Regions from separate parts of the Homo sapiens genome. Here all the other regions are linked to region 1. Evidence: fine-mapped expression QTL. A gene starts in region 1. Each other region holds a variant in brackets. All regions are shown on one strand. Distances are between the middles of the regions. Region 1 holds the start of GPR25 (G protein-coupled receptor 25). Region 2 overlaps INAVA (innate immunity activator). Region 3 overlaps KIF21B (kinesin family member 21B).

Region 1 (8,174 bases):
AGGGAGGAGGAGGTTGCAGTGAGCTGAGATCCCATCATTGTACTCCAGCCTGGGTGACAGAGCATGACTCTGTCTCAAAAAAAAAAAAGAAGCTTATAAACCCAGGCACAGTGGTTCATGCCTGTAATCCTAGCAAACCTTGGGAGGCCAAGGTGGGGGGATCACTTGAGGCCAGGAGGTGGAGGCTGCAGCAAGCTATGATTGCACAGGAAGACTGTCTCTTTAAAAAAAAAAAAAAAGCTCATAGAACATTTAAAAGTAAAGAAATGGAGGGGAAAAAGGATCTAAAATCCACTTACTCTAACACAATCATACACAATCATTATCATTAATGATTATTGTATTTCTTCCTAGCCTTTTTTTGCAAGTCCTTTAACAATCCATAGCTGTTACACATAAAATGCAATAGCCTTCCTTTTACTCTTCACATTCTATGACATTATTTCATATCATGACATGGTCCTGATGATCATTCATTCAACAGGTAGTTAGTGAGTGCCTGAGATGTGCAGGCATGCTCCAGGCACTGGGAACACAGCCTTGAACCAACAGACAAAACCGTCTGCATGCATGGAGCTTGCATCCTGACAGGAGGGACAAGCAAGAAACGAAGAAATAAATCGACAGCATTCCATTAGTTAGCACCTAGATAAAAGAGATATACCTATAGTGTTCAAAGCTTGAGCTATGAGAAATAAAAGAGCAAAAGATCGTTTTCATCAAAAGGACTATGAAGCATGTTATGTTTTACTTAACAAAACCAGTGCTAACCATGTTACATCCTCCAGACTTGAAGTGTGTGGGTGTGTTTAACAGACACAATTTTACCTTTTTTTCCCTTTTAAGTTATCCGTCAACATTTTTCAGTCTCTCTTTAAAGAGCATCTTAAATTTGCATAATAGTCATTCATCTTAATAAAAACATTACACTGTTGTTGGACATTGTTGTTTCCTTTCAGGTTTAACTCTTTAAAAACTTCTCTAACTCAGCCGCAGGGTGCACTGCCTCATGCCTGTAGTCCCGGCACTTCAGGAGGCCAAGGTGGGTGGATCACGAGGTCAAGAGACTGAGACCATTCTGGCTAACATGGTGAAACCCTGTCTCTACTAAAAGTACAAAAAATTAGCCGGGCGTGGTGGTGCACACCTGTATTCCCAGCTACTTGGGAGGCTGAGGCAGGAGAATCGCTTGAACCCAGGAGGTGGAGGTTGCAGTGAGCCGAGATCACACCACTGCACTCCAGCCTGGGCAACAGAGCAAGATCCCATCTCAAAAAAACAAAAAACGAAAACAAAACAAAAAAACTTCTATAACTCAGTGCAGAATCGTTTAAATTTAGTACTGTTGCATTAGAAGAGAGTGGCAGAAGCAAAACTACAGGGTCGAAGGGTATAAACATTTTAAATAAACAGGATATGAAAAGTTCTAAAGCTCTTGATGAAGATTGACAATTGCTTTCTAAAGGAATCTACTCTCACCAGCCACATATGTGGGAATGCTCGTTTAACCAGTTCCTCGATGAATCTGAGCCTCATCTTCCCCAGTGGGAGATGGGAGCTCACTGATCCTCTTTCATTTTTGTCTGAATTTAAGGGAAAATTTCCAAAGGACACATGGTAGACCAGTTCCGTGATCTACTCAAACAAAGGGCGGAAACTGTCTCTCCACATTGCAGAGTTCCACAGCAGGAGGGGAATGCTGAGTTTCAATAGCTACTGCAGGAGGGGAGACGAAAACCCACCAGGGCATGGAGAAGTCTTCTTTCTTCCTGTCTGTTTTCAGGGAACTCAACTAGTCAGTAAGTCAGAAGCAGCAACTTGGCAGGGGTGGAGGTGGGGGCTCAGTCCCAATAGCCTAGAAAAGTGCCTCCTCTGTACTCTGAGATCTTGTCACACACAAACCCAGATGAGAATCAGCTTCCCTGCCCTGAAAATTCTGGGGTCTCAGCCCCATGAAAAAATAATTTCTTGCCTCGGAGAGCAATCGTGAGGATAGGAAGGGCCAAGACTTAACTGAACTCTCAAACACCGAAGTGCCTGAAATGTGTCCTGCTGGCAGAGGTGACCTCACAGGCTGCAAGGCTTGCCTCTCTTGGAGTATATGGTAGGAACATGCAGAGATGCACTTTTTGGCAGGCTGACCTAGGAGAGCCGATGTTCAATCCAAGCAGCTCCAAATGCTGAAGAGAATACAGGGGTATTTGATGGGGGGATGGGATGGATAGCCTGCGACAGAATGCCAGCCTTCAGACCCAACCTAGTGCTGAGGTGCTGATGTGCGTGCACACCCACCCGTTCCCCCAGAGCTTGCAACATCAAGACTGGCCTGTGGGGATCTGGCTAGGATGTGCACTGACTGAAATGTCTTTAGGCCAAATCCTCTTAAATCAAAAGTATAAACAGTGAATTTCCAAACCCTACAGAAACCTCAAATGAGAAATGACAGAGTCAGAAAATGGCTAATCCTCCAAGTTTGTACTGGAAGGTCTGAAAAAAGATAGAAAAAAAAAGGGGGGGCCTGGTATATATTTGAAAATCCAAAATGACACATCTTCTCTTGGAAGTGACACTTGGCTGGCAGATGCCCTTATATAAATATATTTTCTTTCGGTAATTTTCAAAATGTGAAATGTCCTTAAAAATAAGAATAAATGACTTGCTTCCTCCTGTGGGATTACTGCACCTGCAGAGTGCAGCCAGCTCTCATGCTCCCAGACACCACCCCAAATCCTCATCATCCTGAGATCAACCTCAACTACTGTGTTGAGTTTTGTCTCACCCAGTGTACGACCCGCCTCCTGATATGCATTTCACTCCCACTGCTCAAGCAAAGACGGTTGTCAAGACAGGGCTAGCAAGAGTGTTTATTGAGAAAGATGAATTCACAGAGATTTTGAGGTTCCTGGCTGAGTGATGGAGACCTCAAAAAACGCCTGGTGAGCGATTTCAGGACCTTCTGTCCAGAGGGAAAGACCAGAACAACTTCCAGGTGAGTCCTGCCGCTTCACAGGGGGAGAAGTGTCACCAGATTCAATGCAAGGGTTTTGTGAGTGAGAAGGGCAGGGGGTCTGACTTGGAGAAGGTATTTCTCTGAAAGCAACGGCTATTGTGGGAGACGGGAGAAAGCACAGCCAGAAATCAGAATGGCATTTGGGGGTCTGGGTTAGATATTCTGGTGGGTTCTCTTCCCGATGGGACAGAGAAGGAAACCCACTTCCCTTCTGTCTACTTGGTGAATCTGCGGGTCTCCGAGTTGCTGTCTGCTACATCTCATAGCACCTATCTTGGACTGGACAAAATTAGCTCAGGTACCCTGCAGGCTGAGAGGGAACAGCTAGTCACAGGAGCCTGGTTTAGGGGAGTTCAATTGTTCTGAGGTTCCGGGGAAACCGATGGAGGAGGCCTTGGGAGTCCAGGCAGCGCGCGAGGAAATGCGATGCCGGCCCGAGCAGCTTGCTGCCGCCAGAACAGGCGCGTCTGGGGAGCTCAGTCCCCTCCGGGACCTCTGGCCTCCTCTCGATGCTCCGCTGCCGCCCACCTCCAGCGGCCCGGGGCAGCTACCAGGAGGCCGAGGCAGTGTTCGCGGCCTGGGCCCGGCAACGGAACACGGAACTGTCGTCCCTGGAGAGCGAGGAGGCTGAGCTGATCCTTCGCGCCAGGCGGCCGGTGCGCCCGCAGGCCCCGTCCAGCGCCCGGGCTCGGAATGAGCGGTCCAGCAGGAGGTAGATGAGCGGGTTGGCGCAGCTGTTGACGAAGGCCAGGCAGGTGGCAATGGTGAGGCCCCAGCGCAGCGCCAGCAGCAGGGGGCACGGCAGCGGCAGCGCCCCCAGACGCGCCAGGTGGAAGACGGCCCGCAGGGCGCTGAAGGGCAGCCAGGAGCCCACAAACGTGCTCTCGATGGCGAAGATGATGCGCAGCGAGTTCCTCCGGGCCCGACCCACGTGCGGCGGCCGTCGCAGGCGGCGCGAGATGCGGCAGTAGCAGAAGAGGGTGACGACCAGGGGCAGCACGAAGGTCAGCAGCAGCAGCAGCAAGCTGAGGCCCTGGAAGGCGTGGGAGGGCTCCTCGCCGCACTGGCTGTCCTGGCCCCCAGGCAGGGGCTGCAACCCCCGGTAGACCAGGGAGGGCAGGCCGGCCAGCAGCGCCACGGCCCAGACGCCGCAGCACGAGGCCAGCGCGCAGCGCGGGGTGCGCAGTGGCCTCGCCTCGAGCAGCTTCACCACGGCCAGGTAGCGGTCCACGCTCATGCCCGCCAGCAGCAGCGCGCCCGCGCAGCGCGTGCCCGCCAGCGCGAAGCTGCTGAGCTTGCAGAGGCCATCGCCGAACGGCCAGCGGCCGCCTAGCGCCGCCGCCGCGGCCCACAGCGGCAGCGTGAGCACGAAGCCCAGGTCAGCTGCCGCCAGGTGCAGCACGAAGGTATCCACCAGCCGCCGCGGGCCCCGCCGCCCGGCCAGCAGCCACACCACAAAGGCGTTGCCCAGCAGGCCCACGGCGAAGGCCGCCAGGTAGAGCGCGGGGATGTAGACGTAGCCGTAGGGCAGGTCCCCGGCCGGACACAGCTCCAGCTCCTCCAGGCCGTCCAACCCCGAGTAGTCCCAGGGCGCTGACCCCGGGCTGGGGCTCCAGGGCTCTGTGGGGGCCATGGCCTGGCTATGAGGCCTGCGCGGAGTGCAGCCCTGGGCGCAGGCGGCAGCAGCTCTGAGCAGGAGGGGGTTTGCTCTTCACGCCCGGCCCTGCACCTCCCTTCCTGCCACCCAAGCCGGAGGCAAATGGGTGGGCAGGAAAGAGGGGAGGGAGGAGGGGATGGGGTGGGAGGGGCAGGCTTCTGTGAGAGAGATGGTGGCCTCCGATTTGGGGCTGACCCGAGGGGTAAGGGCAGGGACAGGCAAAAGGGGCTTCACATCTAAATCTTGGGAGGAAAAGTCTTCAGGGCTGGGAGACCTGCCCGGCCTCCCAGTAGGAGCGTGGCCCATTCCTCTATTAGTTGCTCAGTTTCTTTGTTCGTGAAATCGGGATACTTGCCCCACTGTCTCAGGGTCGCGTTGCAAGAGGTGGTGGGTGCCCGAGAGCCCTAACCTCTTCTCAGCCTCCACTTCACCCCTTCCCACCTGCACCCACCGGCTGCTGTCTTCTCTGTTTTAGAGGTGAGAAGACAGAGCCCCGGGATTTTATGAGTATGGGGCCTAAGGCACGCCCCACCCCAAATCCACCTGTTCCCTAGGAAAGACTCCACTGCCGGGACACAGCAGATCTGGGTGGGTGGGGGAGCCCGCCCTGGGCAGTCAAGCAGTTGTTAGCGTCCTGAGATGTGGGGCTCATGTCTTCACCCTATGAGTGGCTTCTCTGACCCAGTCAGGTCCTCATGAAGCCACGCGAAAGGGTTTTAAGGCAGCGAGGAAGGGGTGTAGTCAGATCATCCTGCTGGAAAGGGGTGAAACCTGGGATTCACATCTGCCTCTTCCCTGTCTTCTCCTATCCTAAAAAACCTGTCAAGCCAGACACAGATGTAAGCTCAGTTCAAAAGATGACACCTAATGAAACACCAGATTAGTTGTCCTAAATTATGAGTCAGGAGCTTGGAGGCAGCAAGATCCCTTCTGAACTGAGAAACTGAGAGTAAGGGGAGGATTCATAAAGACGAGGGGGAATGAAGTCTGACCCTGAGGAGGCAGTGGGACCTAAGGAGGAGAGGATGGGTGAGGGAAAGCTTGCTCTTTCTCCTGAAGGAGGCATGCAGCCACTTACATCTGAATTCTTCTTAGCAGATATCCCTTCCACAAGATATTGTGGTAGAACTGATGTCACAGTGCCCTCTGAGTCTGTCCCCAGTGTTCCCAGGTATGAGTGGCTGATGTGCCGGGCAACCCGGTGTGGAAAATTTGAGGTGGATTATCAATTTTGTTCGATTAAGACTTGTTAACAATGAACTCCTCCATGAAGCAGGCACTGTTTCAGGCACTGCAAGAGATGCCATTCTTGGCCTTCGCAGTTTGTTGCATAGGCAGGAGAGATGGTTACATAAGCAGAATCTTATGTAATCTTATGCAGGGGCCAAATTGTAGTAAATGTTAAAAACCAAGCCCTCTTAGGGTTTAGTGGAGGGGGAGTGATTATTTTTGACGGGAGGGCTGAATCAGAAAAGGCCTTCGAGGAGATGACACTTGAGATCAGTCCCAGGAAGGAGCTGAAAGTCAAATAAGAGCAGCAGAAAAGAGAAGAAAGGGTCAGACTCGGAGGAGGGAGTAAAGGGAACAAGTATACCAAAATGAGTAGGAATGTGGGCTTTTCAGGGGACAAGCAGTCTGCCAGAGCCCAGGGTAGGAAGGTGGGGGCAGGAGATGAAGCAGGAAAGGATCATGAGGGGATTTGGATTTCAATCTATAGGTCATGGGGAGCCAGGAGGCATCGATCTGTGTTTTGAAAAGATCGCTGGCAGAACTATGGAGAAGGGAGAGGCTCAAGCCAGGGAGACCCCATAGTAGGTTGTAATTATTTGTGTCTGAAATAGATCATGAGCAGTGGGGACAGAAATGGGAGGGTATATTCAAGAGATAATTGTAACATCATAGGTCTCACAAAGAGGAGTCAAAGATAAGCCTGGGGTTTCTCTGCTTAGGGACTATATGGACGCTGTCCCCTTAACTGCCAAGAACACAGAGAGGCACATGTGTGTATGTGTTCAGTTTGATGTTGAAGTGGGGTCATGAAATAATTTATCATCTAACCAGGATGTTTCTGAGAGTGAAAGGGGCACTATCAGAATTAACCTGGGCCGTAAACCAGGACTATTTTGGGCAAACTGGGACATAAGGTCACCCTCGCTCAGGGTCCCTCTGGCACACGGAGATCCCCAGGAAGGATTTGGAAAATGGTCTTAGAGGCCGGGCGCAGTGGCTCACATCTAATCCCAGCACTTTGGGAGGCCGAGGTGGGTAGATCACTTCAAGTCAGGAGCTCGAGACCAGCCTGGCCAACATGGTGAAACCCTGTCTCTACTAAAAATGCAAAAATTAGCCGGGCACGGTACGCGCAAGTCCCAGCTACTCAGGAGGCTGAGGTGGGAGAATCGCTTGAACCCAGGAGCAAAGGTTGCAGTGAGCTGAGATCAAGCCACTGCACTCCAGCCTGGGTGAAAGAGCGAGACTCCATCTCAAAAAGAAAATGGTCCTAGAGCTCACAGAGGGTTGGGTATGCAGTGTTTAGGCTGCTCCTGTCAAGAATTTCTCCCACACCAATTACAAGATGGGCAGGGAAGAGAAGAGCCTAGGGAATGAATGGTCTGGACCTTCCCTTCACTGGCTTTTCAGCCTCCGGGCTTGGTTTTCCCCTGAAGACCCACCCCAGAGCCGCTTTTCTAATGTCTGAGCATGTGGTTGCTGGTGAGCGGTGCCCACATCCGGGGTGGAGTAGGGGGCTGCAGCCTCCTCCCCTAGAAGGCTAGCAGGGGCAGTGCTTGCCTGCCAGAGCCCAGAGACCATCAGAGACAGACCCAGTGTTGCTGGACTTCACCCCTTCAGGCACACCTCAGTCTGCGGGCTCAGAGAGTGTGAGTGATCCTGAAAGCTAGAGATGAACAGCAGAGAAGCCGCCGGGTGAAAACAAAGAATGGGGCAAGCAGACCAAGAGGGGAATATAGGAAGGGGGTTGAGGGGAAGTAGAAGTAGGTTATTTTAAAAATCACAGAGCTACTTGCTTCCTGGGCCATCATCTCATACCCAAGGGAAGTCTGTGGCCCAGAGCATATGCTGAATTTTCTCTGCTGAGGCCTGGGTGCTGTCCATGGGCCTTACTGAACTTGTCTGGATGAGAAGAAACAGCAAAGGTCAGAGCCAGGGACACTGCCTTAGGCCCGGTCTCCTGGGGTGCCCAGCCCGGTTTCAGTGACCAAGGCCAACTTCACAAGACTGCTCTTTCACCCTTCAGGAGGACTCCCCACAGGATTACACACAAGTCAACTAATAGAAACACTCACCCTTACAGGCTGGGAATCCTGGCCATGCTCTCTAACAGGTGTGGACAAAGCAGAAGAAGTCTTCCCTCTTCCTCCATCCCACCCCTGGGAGCCTTCTCTAACCTCCATCCCTAAGAGGACTTCCTCTCTCTGCACTGCTGGAGCCAGGGCAACTGTTACGTGGCTCCGTCTTGCCTTGCCCATGGGATTATGAACTTCTCAG
Region 2 (8,174 bases), 32 kb before region 1:
GCCATGTGTCACCCAGGGTTGTCCCACCTGTGTCCTGGGAGCTCCCACCCTCCAACGATAAGCTCTAAGTGGGTCCCCCATCTCTCTGGGGAAGCTGTCTCTTACCTCAGAGACTGCGACTGGCCCCTCCTCCCCTGTATCTCAGGGGTGGCTGGGGCACTGGTGCGGCCCTGCCACTGGCCAGGAACACCACGGATGGGAACCACGTGGTAGGAGGCAGGCTCCAGAAGCCACAGGCTGGAGGCACTGGGCCCATCCTGTGGTGTGGTGGCTGGGCTGCTGCAAAAGGATTAGAGACAGGTCAGTGGCAGGAATGCCTCCATTCAGGGGCTCAAGAGGTGCAGAAGAATGGGGATGCAGTGGAAGGGGCTCCCAAAGTTAGTAGGGCAAACTGCCAGCACCCTTGGGGAACTATCAAGGCTCACACCTCCATCCCACGACTGCAGGAGCTCTCTCCTCCACCTTTCCACTTTTCCATCTGCCCAGCCTATAGCCATCCCCAGCATAGCTCCCACCGACTCCCTGCCCTGCCCTGCCCTTCTCCCTTCCCCCTGATCCTGACCTGGACTCGCTCCAGGGCTCAGAAGACTTCCTGGGCTTCTCATAGGGGTGGTCCAGGCTGGTTTCCTTCCAGGGGCTGTTCTGGACTGGAGCCCGTTCTGGGCTCCCAGCCTCAGGTCCTGTTGGCTGCAGACCCTCAAGGGTTTGGGGTGGGAGAGGCCGAGAAGGTGGGGCTGGAGACTCTGGAGGAGGTTTTGGCACTTGGGATTCCTCTGCAGGAGTAAAAGAAACCTGGTAAGGCCAGAGGCTGGGGGAACCGGCCCAACAAGAACCTCCACAAACCACAGCCCATGCCTCGCCGCTCTCCCTCCCATGCTGGCTTGTGCAGCTGCTGCAGGCCATGGCTCCAGCCCTAGATGCTCAAACATGTTTTCTTCTCCTTTGGGACTTACTTCTTCCCACACAGCCCTATTTTATGCCTTCCTCCTTCAAGAAGCCTCCCAGATTGACTCTCTTGGGCTTACAGTGCTCCACTTTCTAACCTTTGTTCCTGGTACCATGTCTGCAGTTATCTTTTGTTTACCTATTTTTCTTGTTCCTGCCATGCCCATATGGCCTATTTATTTCCTTATTGGCTTGGGCACTCCCCTGGGCAGGACTGCAACAGCTTCTCGATCCACCTTGACCCTGGCATCCTCATGGTTTGTACACAGGGTTCTTAATCTATAGACTTGTGTTTCCTTCCTGCTCCCTTCTTTTAAAAAACAGCAATGATTGTGGGCAGATTGCTCTTTGGCTCTGACTGGTGCATCTTGAAATCACACCCAAGGGTGAAGGAGGGACATCTGGGGTTGATCAGCTCTCTTGGAGTTCACCTTTCCTTTCCCTGTAAAAATAATGAGCTTCCAGAATGGGAGATGATCGCACATTCCCCATCTTCAACTGAGCATGTGCAAGGACATGCGGAAATTGACATGAAGTCCAAGCGGAAACCCTAAGCCTGGCACCCTAGCCTTCACTCCCACTTAAATTCCACACCAGCAAACTGCCCAAACCCCATGGTCTTGCAGTAGGAGTCCAGCCTTGACAATAGTCCCCCAAACGTCCTTCTCACCTTCCTCCAGGAGGAGCCCATCTGACAGGGAGCTGTCATCAGAGGCACTGAGCTCTGCGAAAGACAAAGGGGAGAGAAGAGAAGGAAGTGAAGAAATGAACAAACAGATATGAGTAACCAGCAGTGCTGAGCAGCTCAGGCCTGATCACTCCCCCAGGACAGCATCAGTTATGAGGAAATACCCTCTGTGTGCTAAATACACATTGGGAGTGATTTTTTTTTTTTTTAAGAGACAGGGTCTTACCCTGTGGCCCAGGCTGGAGTGCAGTGGTGTGATCATGGCTCACTGCAGCCTTGACCTCCCAGGCTCAAGGGATCCTCCCACCTCAGCCTCACAAGTAGCTGAGACCACAGGGGCATGCCAGCACACCCAGCTAAATTATTTTATTTTTTTTGTAGAGAAGAGGTCTTGCTGTCTTGCCCAGGCTGATCTTGAACTCCTAGGCTCAAGTGATCATCCCACCTTGGCCTCCCAAAGTGCTGGGATTATAGGCATGAGCCACTGTGCCTGGCCTGGCTGTAAACTTACTACATGGAAGTAGAAAAAAATAGAAGGCAGAGCTAGGAGACAGGAAACCTGATTTTAATCCTGACTCTGATACTAGCTATGCAACCTTGAATAAACCATTTCAATGCTCTAGACCTCAGTTTCCCCACCTGTCAAAAAAAAAGAAAAAGGGTGTCCTCTGGCAGGGCTTCTTGGTAGTGGAAAGGAAAGACAAAGGGTCATTTTGGAAGGCCCTTAGGATAAAAAGAATTTCATGGCCAGGCGCGGTGGTTCATGCCTGTAATCCCAGCATTTTAGGAGGCCAAGGCAGCAGATGGCTTAAGCCCAGGAGTTCAAGACCCACCTGGGCAAGATGGTGAAATCTGGTCTCTACAAAAAATACGAAAATTAGCCAGGCATGATGGTGCATGCCTGTAGTCCCAGCTACTTGGGAACCTGAGATGGGAAGATCACTTGAGCCTGGGAGGTCGAGGCTGCAGTGAGCCGTGATCACACCACCGCACTCCAGCCTGGGCAACAGAGTGAGACCCTGTCTCAAATAAAAAAAAGGGAATTTCACTCTAACTTTTGTATAATCATCTCACATCACAAACACAATTCAAAGATCCCAATGTGAGACCTCCTGTGTTACCAACAACAAGAGGAACGCAAGGTAGGAATTTGAATTTAAGATAAGGTCTGGCCAGCTGGCCCCAGGGAAGTTTCTTCAGTTGGTGATCTGGCAAGTCACCTGAAGGAAATTCAGTGTGACTTTACTTCATGGTATAGCAGCACTTTTTACCTAAGAAATCAGAGGGAACTCATTTGTGCTATTGCTTTTGAAGAAACTTAAGCCTTCAGATTTTTTTTTTTTTTTTTTTTGAGATGGAGTCTCATTCTCTTACCCAGGCTGGAGAGCAGTGGTGTGATCTCGACTCACTGCAACCTCCACCTCCCAGGTTCAAGCGATTCTCCTGCCTCAGCCTCCCGAGTAGCTGGGATTACAGGCACACACCACTATGCCTGGCTAATTTTTGTATTTTTAGTAGAGACGGGGTTTTGCCAGGTTGGCCAGGCTGGTCTTGAACTCCTGACCTCAGGTGATCCACCCACCTCGGCTTCCCAAAGTGCTGGGATCACAGGCGTGAGCCACCACACCCGGCCAGGCCTTCAGATCTTGAGAATAAGCCTAAAGTGACCTGGATGGAACTCACGAAACATTTTCAACTGTGTTTGAGAATGAAGATGAGGAAAAAGTAATAATTGCTAATGTTTCTACTGTGCCA[A/T]TACATTTCTAAATACAGCACTTTATATATATTAATTCAGGTAATTCTCATAACAACCACGTAAGGTAGATATTATCACCTGCAAGTGACAGTTGAGGAAACCACGTCTCAGAGGAGTTGAGTAACGTGGTTTAGGTTATACATTCAACAAAGGTGGTTGAGTCAGAATTCACACCCAGACAGTCTGACTGGAGTCTGCTCTTAACCACAACCCTTTATGGGCTCTCCCCTGTGAGCTTGCATCTCAAATGCATGGGCATTGCCCAGGAAGTTTCAAAAAAAGTAAAAAGTTCCAACCATCTTGAAATCCCTTACAACAGAGGTTAGCAAACTATGGCCCAGGGGTCAAATCCAGTTCAATAGCTGCTTTTGTAAATAAATGTTTATTGGAACACGGCTATGAATTTGTTTATGTAATGTCTGGCTGTTTTAGCACTGAAGTAGCAGAGTTGAACAGTTGTGATAAAGACCAAAGAGCCTACAAAGACTAAAATATGTACTGTCTGGCTCTTTATGGAAAAGTTTGTTAACCTTTGCTCCACAAAGGTTTAACCCATCTTTTTAAAGATGGGTTGTTACAATGTTGCCTAGGCTGGAGTGCAGTGGCCCGATCACAGCTCACTGCAGCCTTGACCTCCTGAGCTCAATCAATCTCCCACCTCAGACTCCTGAGTAGCTGGGACTATAGGTGTCCACAACCATGCCTATCCAATTTTTTTATTTTAGTTATTTGTAGAGACAGGGTCTCCCTGTGTGGTCCAGGCAGGTCTCATACTCCTGGGCCCAAGAGATCCTCCTGCCTTGGCCTCCCAAAGTGCTGGGATTACAAGCTTGAGCCAACATGCTCAGCCTGCTCCGCAATTTAATGAAAAAATCTTTACCCAGAGCAGGCAGTAGATTTCTAGGACATACGGTACCAGGAGCTGGGCTTGACTCCTGAGTAGCCAGCCAGCCCATGCTTTGCTTGGCTCACAAGTAGCCTTTGCTTTAGGGTTCAATTAAAGAGACCCCCTCTTACTGAATTCTGGTCTCCTGCCTTTGATCTTTTATAAAAACCTTAGGAATAAAGATTTTCATTGGGCCAGGCACACCTATAATCTTAGTTACTCCAGAGGCTGAGGCAGGAGGTTTGCTTAAGACCAGGAGTTTGAGACCAGCCTGGGCAATATAGCAAGATCCCATCTCTAAAATAGTTTTTTTGTTTTGTTTTGTTTTAATTTGCTGGGTGTGGTGGCACATGACTGTAGTCCCAGCTACTAGAGGCTGAGGAAGGAAGATCACTTGAGCCCAGGAGTTCAAGGCTGCAGTGAGGTATGATCACACTACTGCACTCCAGCCTGAGCAACAGAACAAGACCCTGTCTCTAAAAAGATTGGAAAAAAAAAAAAAAAGATTCAGGTTTCTGAGAGCTGCTCACTATCTCAGCAACTGTCCCAACCCTGCCCTAGCTCAGCGTTCCCCTGCCCCGCAGCAGCATCGCAGGACACCCCAGACAGAGGGGTAACGGTGGAGATTTTACTCACAAATGCTGAGCTTCCCCCAAGGCTATGCTGTCCAACACAGTTGCCACTAGCCGCATGTGGCTATTTTCATTAAAACTAAATAAAGTCAGTTCCTCAGTCACACTAGGCACAGTTCAAATGCTCCATAGCCACATGCAGCGAGTGGCTACTGTATTGGACAGCACAGATACAGAACACTTCCACCATCTCAGAAATGCTATGAGCGGCCAGGCGCAGTGGCTCACGCCTGTAATCCCACCACTTGGGAGGCCAAGGCGGGAGGATCCCTTGAGGTCAGGAGTTCGAGACTAGCTTGGACAATTTGGTGAAACCCCATCTCTACTAAAAATACAAAAATTAGCTGGGCGTGGCAGCACGCATCTGCAGTCCCAGCTACTCAGGAGGCTGAGGCAGGAGAATCGCTTAAACCCGGTAGGTGGAGGTTGCAGTGAGCTGAGATGGCTCCACTGCACTCCAGCCTGGATGAGAGAGCAAGACTCCGTCTCAAAAAAAAAAAAAAAATGTTATGAGGATGTGGCTAATGGCTGGTGTTGTTGATCAACAGATGCATCCAGAGTGCCTATTACATTGCACAGGTGGGTGCTGGGTGGCCCTCATGCGGTTCACTCTAGTAAATGAGCTCAACACCTGACTGCTCCCTGCCACTGCAAAGTATGGCTGATGACTCTCACCTAGCAGTTACTTTCCCAAACTAAATTACCCTTGTATGGAGCCCAAGGGGGCAGGGTGGTTTTTTATTTCGGTTTTTGGGTTGTTTGCTTTTTTCCCTTTTTTTTTTTTTTTTTTTTGAGACAGAGTTTCGCTCTTGTCACCAGGCTGGAGTGCAATGGTGCAATCTCGGCTCACCGCAACCTCCGCCTCCTGGGTTCAAGTGATTATCCTGCCTTAGCCTCCCGAGTAGCTGGGATTACAGGCATGCGCCACCATGCCTGGCTAATTTTGTATTTTTAGTAGAGATGGGGTTTCTCCATGTTGGTCAGACTGGTCTTGAACTCCCGACCTCAAGTGATCCACCCGCCTCGGCCTCCCAAAGTGCTGGGATTACAGGTGTGAGCCACTGCACCTGGCCTCCTGTTTTTTTGTTTTGTTTTGTTTTTTGTTTTTGAGACAAAGTCTCACTCTGTTGCCAGGCTGGAGTGCAGTGGCACGATCTCGGCTCCCTTGATCCTGGGCTCCACCTCCCAGGTTCAAGGGATTCTCCTGGCTCAGCCTCCCGAGTAGCTGGGACTACAGACATGCACCACCATGTCTGGCTAATTTTTGTATTTTTAGTAGAGATGGGGTTTCACTATGTTGGCCAGGCTGGTCTTGAACTCCTAACCTCATGATCCGCCCACCTTGGCTTCCAAAAGTATTGGGATTACAGGCATGAGCCACAGTGTCCGGCCTTCCCTTTTTAATTCAAAACACCTCAGCTACTAATAATTCTGCTTTACTTCCTCCTTTCTAGGAGGGCTCGGCTGGGCAGAGGAGCCACAAAACAGAAATTACTTGTCTAGAACTGATCCCTTCTGTGCTCTCACAACAGGACTTTAGATCCCAGGGCCTGAAGTTGGCCAGTGGGATCTTGATTCCTGATGTGGGAAAGTCAGCAACTACACCAGTTGTCTCCTCTCCACAGCTCTGTCTTCACCTGTACTGAGGGCTCCAAGGTTTCAGAACCTCATCCTCCTGCCTTCCACAGAGCCCCAGGCCAGTCCTGGCCTGCTCCCGACTCCCAACAAGAAGCATTATGGGTCACAATGGCAGCATCAGGGTGACACTCCCCTGCCACCCATCATGGGCAGAAGCTCCCAGCAATGGCAGCCCCGGTGGGCAGGGGAGGCTGCTGAGCAGTGTGAGGCTGGACCGGGGAGCAGGAGGCGCTGCAACCAACGGGCATATCTCACCACCCTGACCTCTCCCTGCAGGCACAGAGCAAGTTGGCCCTTAGGGGCTTCCATGTCCAATTCAGCAGCTACCTTTCAAGGTTGCTGTCAAGTCCTGGGATCCCTGTTGAGAGTGGAGTAAGGTTGTAGAACTTGTCTTCCATTAGAGCCTCAGAGACTGGGAGTGTTGTTCTGCGGCCAAGCCAGAACCACTGGAACCGGACAGAGGTCTGGCCATTTTCCCTGGGTCAGCCCCACTGTCTTCTGAGTTTACTGGGTTAACTGTCACATGGAGGCACCTCCTCCTTTATCACCTACTCTTGGCTGCGGGAGGTGACCTGGGTGGTGTCTGGTCATGCACTTTCTACCCTAAATTAAAAGCCATGGATAGGAGCAGGGACTTCTGAGACCTGTGCTGAGATAACTCCCTGCCTGAGGCATAGGCTGCAGGGCACAGGGACTAGCAAGGGCTTTCCAGCTTCCCCATGACTGCTCCCAGGCTGAGGAGTAGTCTTGGCAAAAAGCCAACACGATATGCAGGGATGGGAGCCTGAGAATGTGAATGAAGGCCGAGACCTCTGAATCCAATTCTGGATTTTTTTTTGCAGGGCCACGGCCTCATTCCCTCCCGGTTCCCTCTGAGGCAGCCAGGGAGGTCTGGGTCCCATGTGAGAGACGGGGGGCAGAGCTGAGTCATGGGCCTGCTGCGGTGGGGTTTGGAATGGAGAGATGCAAGTCCTGACCTGACAGGCTGGCCTTGGGTCAGGACAAAGGAAAACAGTCACACCTAAGGGCTCAGAACCACCTGTTGGAAGCTAACCTGTGGTGGACACACTGATGTGATGTGGCAGCACCTGGGCATCAACAACTCACTAGGTGCCCCCACGGCCACTAGTCTCTGGGCCAAGGAGCTCAGGGATTGAACTACAGACACAAGGAGGGCAGAGAACAGACATGGAAGGATCCCACCCTTGACCAGGGTGGTTGTAGATACTTAAGGGGCTGTGGGGTGTGGCACCAGTCCTGCTGGATTTCAACCTGAACATCTCCTAAGTAGCTGTGGGCCCCTGAAACAATTCAGTGATCAGTAACACATAGCAATCGTCAAACCCTTTGCTGCCTAACTCAGGCCAGGGGACTACACATCAACTCAGAGCCTTGGGCTCACGGGAGCCTCACACTACCCTGACCCAGAGATGCCATCACCCTGTGGGCCTGGAGGGCAGCGGGGCCAGCCTGGGCTACCCAGTTGAATACACCTTGGATTCAGCTCAGGGTCAGCTGAGAAATATCTCTGTGTAGGAAGTCTCTTGAAGGTAGTGTATTTTGAGGAGGATACGGAAGGAGAGAGTAGGGTGTTTTCTAAGGAGACGGAGAAGAAGACCTCACAGGATG
Region 3 (8,157 bases), 99 kb before region 1:
ACAAACACTAATTTGTTTGCTCTCTGATTATGCCATTGAAAACTGTCCATACACAGTCAGAAACTGAAAGGAAGCAGGCCAGGCGTGGTGGCTGACATCTGTAATCCTAGCACTTTGGGAGGCTGAGGTGGGAGGATCACTTGAGGTCAGGAGTTTGAGACCAGCCTGGCCAACATGGTGAAACTCTGTCTCTACTAAAAATACAAAACATTAACCAGGCATGGTGTCGGGCGCCTGTAGTCCCAGCTACTTGGGAGGTTGAGGGAGGAGAATCGCTTGAACCCGGGAGGCAGAGGTTGCAGTGAGCCGAGTTTGCACCACGGCACTCCAGCCTGGGCAACAGAGTGAGACTCAGTCTCCAACAAAAAAGAAACTGGAAAGAAGTAGGGTTTTCAGGGGTGGTGGGATTATGGTGAATATTTAGTAAAAATCAAAAGAATTCTAGAGGGAGGCTCACACCCTAAACCCACCCTTCTCCTTAGCAGCTGCCTGTTGAGCTGTGGGGTCTCGGCGTGATGAGCTGATTCACCCCTGCATTACTTGAGTTGGTCTCCTCCCACCCCTGCCCCAGTATCCACAGGAAGGGTCAAGATCTGAACCTTCCGTGTTCCCAGTCCCTTAGAAGGAGCAGCCCCACCTCCAGGAACCCTCGCCTGCTGGGAAGCTCCTCTCCCCAGAGGGCAGTGGCTGTCACCCTAGCCAGACTCCTGGGTCTTCAGGCCTCTGGGTCCACAGTGCTGTAGGCCCTGCCTTCCATCCTCCCACTTGGCCTCTCCCTACTGGCCCCTCCTCCCACAGATGTTCGAGCTGGGCGAGTGTGTGACGGGCACCATCGGCCCCACTCACAACTTCGAGCCCCCGCACTACGATGGCATCGAGTGTCTCGCCATCCAGGGAGACATCCTGTTCAGTGGCTCCCGAGATAACGGCATCAAGAAGTGGGACCTAGACCAGCAGGAGCTCATCCAGGTGGGGTCAGGAGGAAAGGGAGAGGGTAGACTCGGGTAGGGTGGTTTCCATAGCCCACGCAGGGCCTTGGAGACCCTGGGACCTGGACTCGCGGGCCCCAGGCCAGATGGTTTTCACAGCTCCCCAAGCCCTCCTGTTCTCCCTCTTCCTCCTCTGTCTCCATCCTCCCTTCTTCCCTACCCGCGGCCTCTCCTGATGCCACATCTCCCTCTTAGGCAACCTGCTCTCAGCAAAGCCTTTGCTCTCAGCTCTTGGGTTTGCATGTGAAGCTCAGTTACCCAATTCCTTTCCTGGGAGCATTTGTGTTTTAGCCTGACCCGTGTGAGGGCTGAAGGGTTCTCTGCCAGGGCAGGATCTTAGGCTTGAACCTGGGAAGTAGAGCAGAGGGACCCATCTCTGGTCCCCTAAAGCCCACAGCACAGGCCACCCCAGCATGGCTCCTGGAACCAGTGTCACCCGCCCGTGTGGCAGCTCTAGAGGCCAGGGGAGCCTGGAAGTAGCTCCACTACTAGCAAGAGGGGCCCTGGGGCAGGTTCTCTCCCTCATCACCTCCCCCAGCCCTCACCAGCCCTGATCCTCTCACAGCAAATCCCCAATGCGCACAAGGACTGGGTGTGCGCCCTGGCCTTCATCCCGGGCCGCCCCATGCTGCTCAGCGCCTGCCGTGCGGGTGTCATCAAGGTCTGGAACGTGGACAACTTCACACCCATCGGTGAGATCAAGGGCCACGACAGTCCCATCAATGCCATCTGCACCAATGCCAAGCATATCTTCACAGCCTCCAGGTGGGTGCTGGTCAGAGAGGTCTGCCTCTGCTCCCTCATCTCCTTCCTGGTGTGGGCAGGGGAGGCTGGGAGGCTCAGGGCCCTGCAGTTGTCCCCGCAGGCTCGGTTCACAGAGCAGATTCCATGGTGGCCTCCTTTGCATACCTAGCCTGTGCCAGCCTTCAGTGAGTGCCCACCATGTGCTGGGCACTGCGCTAGGCAGGGGAGGAGGAAGGTACTGGGCCCTGGGCCAAGCCTCGCCCGCTTGTCTCCAAGCCCTTCCTACCCTCCCCTGCCCTGGCTGTCTTCCCCCGTGCAGGTATCTCTCAGAGCACAGAGCAGCCCTGCCAGCCCCAGACCACGCCTCTTACACCCCACCCACCCGCTCTGGCCCCCTGTGTGGGGAGCAGCCAGGCCCTCTGTCCCATGGGGTGCGACTCAGATGGCTTTCTTTCTTGTTCCGACTTTGTCCCTTCTCTCCCCTCCCCTTCCCATCTCCTCCCACCTCTCCTCTCTGTCCTCGCCTCTCTCCCCACACAGTGACTGCCGGGTAAAGTTGTGGAATTACGTCCCTGGACTCACCCCCTGCCTTCCTCGCCGAGTCCTGGCCATAAAGGGCCGCGCCACCACCCTGCCCTGACCCTCCCCAACTCTCCCTGTCTCCTCTTTCATTCTTCCCCTCTTTCCTTTTCCCTCTCTTTCCCCACTTCGATCTGAGCTGCTTCTTAACGGTATGAGATTATTTTACTCCTTCTTCTTCCTTTCCCTTCCTGTCCTGCCTGGCCTAGAGAGGTGCCCTGCCTGTCCCTCCTGCACCCACCGTCCTTTTCCAAGCATGAACAGTGGGACAGGCCCCAGGAGATGGGTGCCAGGGAGCAGAAGGGGGAGCCTTCAGGCCTGGACAAAACGAAACACCCCCCCAAAAAAAGAAAACCCATGACAAAGCTCCCCTGGGGGCCTCTGAGTGCACAGGCCTCTCCATCTGCCCAGCACCCCACCACCTGCAGTCCACCTCCCCGTAAGCCATGCTTGCCTCCCAGCCCCAACCACATTTGGGGAGTTTGGGGAATCCAGTTCATCCTCTACTTTTGGGGGCAGCCAGCCAAGCCCACTGCAAGAGCTGACCGGCACCCCTCCACTTTGTCCTCCACCCCAGTGACCTGACGGTGAAGTTCTGGAGTGTCCGGCGGTTACCCCACAGCGGCCCACCCTAGGAGTGAGGTCAGAGGGATGCCCCCGGACCCTCGACCCCAGCAGCCTGGACACCATGGAAGGGAAGCTGTGACCCGGCCGATGGGGCCAGCTGCTCTGGGGACAGAGGGCGTGGCCCCCTCTCCTGCCCTCCTCCCTCTCCCTTGGCCTTCCCACAGGACACTGTTCCCTCATCCCTCCCCTGCCTCTCAGGAGCCTCTGGGTGAGAGAGAGGCTGGGGAGGAAATTAAGCTGTGAAGCCAAAGGGCATTATCCCTTCTTGTTC[C/T]CCTCCTGGCAGTCGTGGCCACATTGTCTCCTGCTGAACCGGCTCTGCCCCTTTCTCAGGCCTTTGGCCCAGTGGTGGAGCCCTGTGGGGAGGTGCAGCAGCCTGGCCCCATCCCACCCTTCCGAGGAGCTGGCCTCCCCGCTTCTCCCAGCCCAGCCTCTAGAGCCACTGCACCTGCCTCTGAGCCCAAAAAGATAAGTCCTCAGGTAGCTAAGGAAACCAGGTGTGGGCGGCTGGGCCTTGCAGCTAACCCTTAACCCTCTGGCAACCCGCAGATAGCCCCAACTGGCCCCAACAGTTCCCTGGGGTCCCTTTTGGATGGGGCCAAGGTGGAGCTGCTAGAAAGATTCCTTTGGGGAGATGGTCAGAAATACTTCAGTTATTTATTATTTTGTTATTTTTATTTTTTGCTGTTGCCTCCTGGAAACGGACTTGAAGTTTCTTCCCCTATATTCTTTCCCTCAGCTCTTGGGGGCCAGAAATCCCAAAGGGAGTCCGCTGCCCCGGCCCTCCAGGGCCGCCTCCTCTGTTTGCTTTGCAGAGGAGGGAACTGCTCCTTCGACTCTGCAGCTCAGGCCTGTCCCCGACACAGCCCCCAGGGAGTCTTCTAGCTACCCCTGGCCTCTAGGCCGCCTGACGCTCAGTGCCTTCCTCCGTTCCGGGGCCTGGCACCCGTGCCGGGCAGCCTTACACCAGCCATGCCCGCGGCACCACATGTGTCTTCTCACTCGCGAGGTCTTGTGCCCAGCGCCCCCGGGAAGGCGGGGGCGCTCACCCCACAGCCCAGGCCCCGGGGTTCTGCCCCACAGTCCTGCGTGGGCCACGTAGGAAGCAGCATGGGGGCTGTGTCTGCTGGGAGGTGGCTTGGATGGGGAGGACAGCCCGGCACCCTGACCCCCGCCCCTCCCCAGCCCTGCAGTCCCCCACTGGGCCGGGGAGTCTCTCCAGCTTCTCTCTCTCTGGTTATTCAGGAGACACATTTTCGGCCTTAAAACTGGCATGGAGCGCAGGCCCTCCCTTGCAGAAAATTATCAAGGAAGAGGGAGTTGGCAGAGTTTCTCTGCCCCGGGGCTGGGGACGCGGAGCTCCGGGGAAATTGTTAAATCAGTGTTCTGGCGCCCCCTGTTGGGGGAACTCTGGAATTACAGGAGTGGGCCTTGGGGGGGACTGAGCTCCATCCCTCTCCCCCGCCCCACCCCCACCCAAAGTTGCCCACCCTGTTTTTCCGTTGCATCGCTGGTCTTGTGCTTCCCGCTTCAGTCTGGGAGCCAAGAGCCAGCCCCACCTCCCTTCAGAGGACGCAGTGACTTTTGGACTTTCCAGAGGTGGTTCTGTGTTTCTGCCCTTGGCTCCTCTCCGTCTTGGGCTGGGGCACTTGGAGCCCTCTCCATGTGGCGCCCAGTGTTGGGGGGAGGCAGGCTCCAGTGGAGGCTGAGTGAGGCCTGGTCCCTTCCCCGTGCCCTCCTCGGAGCTGCCACAGAGGCTAAGACGGCTGTCCTGCTGGTGCTGGCCCTGCTGGATGTGGTATTGAAGTCTGGGGCAGCTGATAGCAGGAAGGAGACCCCCTTGGATGCTGGTCTCCTGGGACCTGAACAGTCTGTCAGCAATGGCTGGAAATCCTTCTTCCTCTGGCCACCCCGGGGGTGCCGGGCAACCCCCTTAGCTCTAAGATGTGGCCACAAATCTCTTCCCACTCCTCCCCGCCAACCTGAACAGAAAGTTTTGACCTTGCAACCTGTAAGAAAGAATCCGTCCGCATGACTGTTTACAAGCGATAGAAACACGTAAGACTCTGTCCCCTTGAGCTCCCACCCCCGGGCCGGGGATGCCCCACCTGGGGTGACTGCACTGTAGCTGCAAGGCGTGTTCTTGCACGAAGTGTGATCTTATGGCCCTGCGAGAGGTGCTCATCATCATGCCCATTTTCTGCTGTTTCTGATGGGTCAGCTACCTCACGGCGGGGCCAGCTCTGCTGTCCTGGCAAGTGTCATTGACTCTCTAAACTTGAAGTCCTTCAGGAGCCCTGAGCCCAACATCCATGAGACACCCCGAGTTGTGCTTCATGAGAGTTGGATTCTCTGCCCACTCTTTCAGGGATGTCCAAGGTCCATGTTAGGGGGCAGGCCCCCAGCTCCACTCACTGCACAAGCACCCTAAATGTTGGAAGCACAAAATGGTTGTGATTTGAGCACAATGGCAGGGTCCCGCAGGCAGACTTGACAGGCCCAGGCCCGGGAGGATCCCCCCACGTTGGCTCTGTCCAAAGTGAGATTGGGGGTGCCTGTGTCTGGGACAGGGGGCTGCCCTTGCTCAGACCAGGCCTTGGCTCATGGCTTGTCCTAATTCTGGGACTCGTCATCTTACTTCTTGCCCTTCTGTGCCCATCTTAAGACTGGAGGCTGAGCCTTGTCAGGCCCAGCCACATCTTTACGCCATGGGACCAGGAGTAAAGCGCTCTCTAAACCCCGCACCCCAAATCTCTAAACGCCTGAGTTCAGGCTGAGTCCTAGCCCTAGTGAGCCTGAAGAGCTTGGACTGATTCCCAGTCTCCTGGGTCAAGCCCCACTTTGTGCTTTCGAAGCTTATGAGCGGGTTCCCTGGATAGAAGGAGTCTTCCATCCCCACTGCCCTTGGGCCTCTTCAGCATAGTCCTGTGCCAGGGCCCTGTCCTCACTATCAGTCAGTTCAGTATTTGCTTTCACGTGAGTGGCGGACTCTTCTGAAGCAGCCAGAACTCTCAAAGGCAGCGCATGGAGTTGCCTTGCGAGATTTCCAAGGAAGGAGGAAAGATTAACAGGCGGAGCCTGGCACACCCAAGCCTTTGAGGTGGTCAGAGTGCCACCTTCAGCCCCTTGGGAAGGGACAGCGGTGGGTCTGGGAGTGGCCTCACCCTGGATTCAGCCTAGGAATCTCTTCACCCTCAGCTGTCCAGCCCTGCTGCCTGTCTGGGGATGTGTGGCCTGGGCAGAGGGCAGTTTAAAGCACAAAACCACATGGGGAAAACACAAGGTTGCGGGGACTTTCTCATGTGCCTGATGTGGTGGAGGGAGACACCAGCAGGTGGCTGCAGTGACGTTAGGGAACATAACACTTCTTTGCCCTGCTAGCTCTCAGCTCTGGGGGGCATCCCCCGATGTGGTCTGGGCTGGGAGCAGGCATATCCCCTGGTTGTTGCCTGTGCCTGGTCTGTTCACCATCGTGTTTGTGTGGGCAGAGCCTGCCCTGCAGGAGCAGTGACTTTCTTCCCACTGTGTGTCCCGGACCTGTGGTATGTGTCCCTTTGCCATCCCAAACAGGCAACTGCTTGCTGCTCTCCTTGCTTGGCATAGCCTCCTGGTCAGTGGCCAATGCCCCACAGGCCTTCCTGGGCCTGGCCCTCCTCTCCTGACTCCCAGATCCTTCCCTGCCCTCTTGTGTGCAAGGACAGATTTTGCAGGGAAAGTTCTGTTTCTTCTTTGATACCTTTGTTCTGTCCCCTGCCCCATCCCCAGCACTCATGATCTTGAAGCCCCTATCACACTCTAGTTCAGTCCTGTGAACCATGTCCTGAGGGCCTTGCAGGGAAGTAGGAAATAGAAACTCCTCCACAAAGAGCCGAGGATCAGAGAAGACCCCTGAGATGAATCAGGGCCCTGCCCTGCCCACCAACTCTTTTCTAGCAATCATGTCCTGCCCAGGCTGCAGGCTTCATTAGGCTCCTGCTGTCCTCCATGATGTGACTAGCACAAGGTGTATATATGTTTTGTACCTCTGCCGATGGCTGTACATAGTGTATGAAAGTTATTTAAGCCCCATGTTGTACATTTCTGTTCCTAGATTGGATGTGTGTGTTCTAAGAAGTTGTCATAAATAAAACCTGAATGACCAATGTCTGTGGAGGTGTCCCCTGTCCCCTTCCAGGGGGCTGCTGACTTTTGGCTGGGGCCTTTGGAGAGGGAGTTGGTGGTGGTGGTGGGTGGGTGGGTGAATGGGTGCAGCAGGCCTCTGGGGCTGGGCCCAGCCTGATGAGAACTTCCTGAGCTGTGAGTTTGGGGCTTCACCAGTTAGAAAGCAGAGAGCTTTGAGAGCGTCACATTCTCCTCCAGACTCCATATGTTGTCTCCAGAGGCAGGTGCAGTTGCTGGAAGAGTGGGCAGCAGCATTTGTGGACCAACTGCTATATCCTAGGCACTGTTCAGAGCATTTTTCATTGTGTCTTCACTGCCCTGTGTGACAGGTGACATTCTCATTTTATGAAATGAGAAAGGTCTCGGGATGGATGTGACTTTCCCAGGATCACAGCTAGTAAGGACAGAGCCAGGATCTGCATCTAGACCTCCCCAACCACAGCAGCCTTTGCCTTTTGCTAACGTAACACGTACCTCTCTAGGGCCTGGACTACGCTGTGCGTGGTGCACGCCAAACGCATCTCGGTCCCTTGCCACTTATGGAAAGAAGGCAAGACTATAAAAAGATCATACAAGAAAAGAGCTCTACAAAGGTCTTTTCTTTTCTTTTTAAATAGAGATGGGATCTCACTATGTTTCCCAGGCTGGTCTCGAACTCCTGGGCTTAAGCCTTACCTCCCATCTCAGTCTCCCAAAGTGCTGGGATTACAAGCGTGAGTCACTGTGCCTCACCATGATTTTTGTCCTAGATCAGTGCTTTTCAGTCTTTAAGAACCCATATTCCCTTTTGATAACCATGAATTGTTTCACCAACTCCTGGAGATTCCGGCCCATCCCCTGGGCAGAGAGGCCCCTCGGGGAGAATCCACATCTTCATCACCAGCCACAACTGATTAAAAAGCTTAACTTCCTGATATTTGTATCAGGAATATAATAGGGTTTCTCTTTGCTTTGTTTCCCAAATATAAAACCAAATTGCTTCCTCAGCCTGCGCAGGTCCCCTGCTGTTTGTCCAGACTTATGGATGTGACAGGTGCTCTGGCCAGGGAATTCCTGGAGT

The links.
Region 2: its variant is fine-mapped to the expression of GPR25 in whole blood (INTERVAL, PIP above 0.99).
Region 3: its variant is fine-mapped to the expression of GPR25 in whole blood (INTERVAL, PIP above 0.99).

The regions. Positions count from the first base shown.
Region 1 is chr1:200,869,507-200,877,680 of GRCh38, reverse strand. It overlaps GPR25 (G protein-coupled receptor 25), which reads right to left and starts at 4,700. Exons shown (of 1, transcript NM_005298.4): 1 at 3,503-4,700. The coding sequence starts at 4,643. The coding sequence ends at 3,558. RefSeq lists an enhancer at 4,006-4,648.
Region 2 is chr1:200,901,329-200,909,502 of GRCh38, reverse strand. It overlaps INAVA (innate immunity activator), which reads right to left. Exons shown (of 10, transcript NM_001142569.3): 6 at 1,616-1,669; 7 at 563-773; 8 at 106-279. Among named protein-coding and RNA genes, the nearest start is that of INAVA, 11 kb to the right of the region's middle. RefSeq lists a silencer at 3,451-3,570. The variant A/T (reference allele first, on the strand shown) is at 3,389.
Region 3 is chr1:200,968,311-200,976,467 of GRCh38, reverse strand. It overlaps KIF21B (kinesin family member 21B), which reads left to right. Exons shown (of 35, transcript NM_001252102.2): 33 at 799-969; 34 at 1,555-1,754; 35 at 2,890-7,078. The coding sequence ends at 2,947. Among named protein-coding and RNA genes, the nearest start is that of KIF21B, 51 kb to the left of the region's middle. RefSeq lists an enhancer at 5,214-5,393. The variant C/T (reference allele first, on the strand shown) is at 3,211.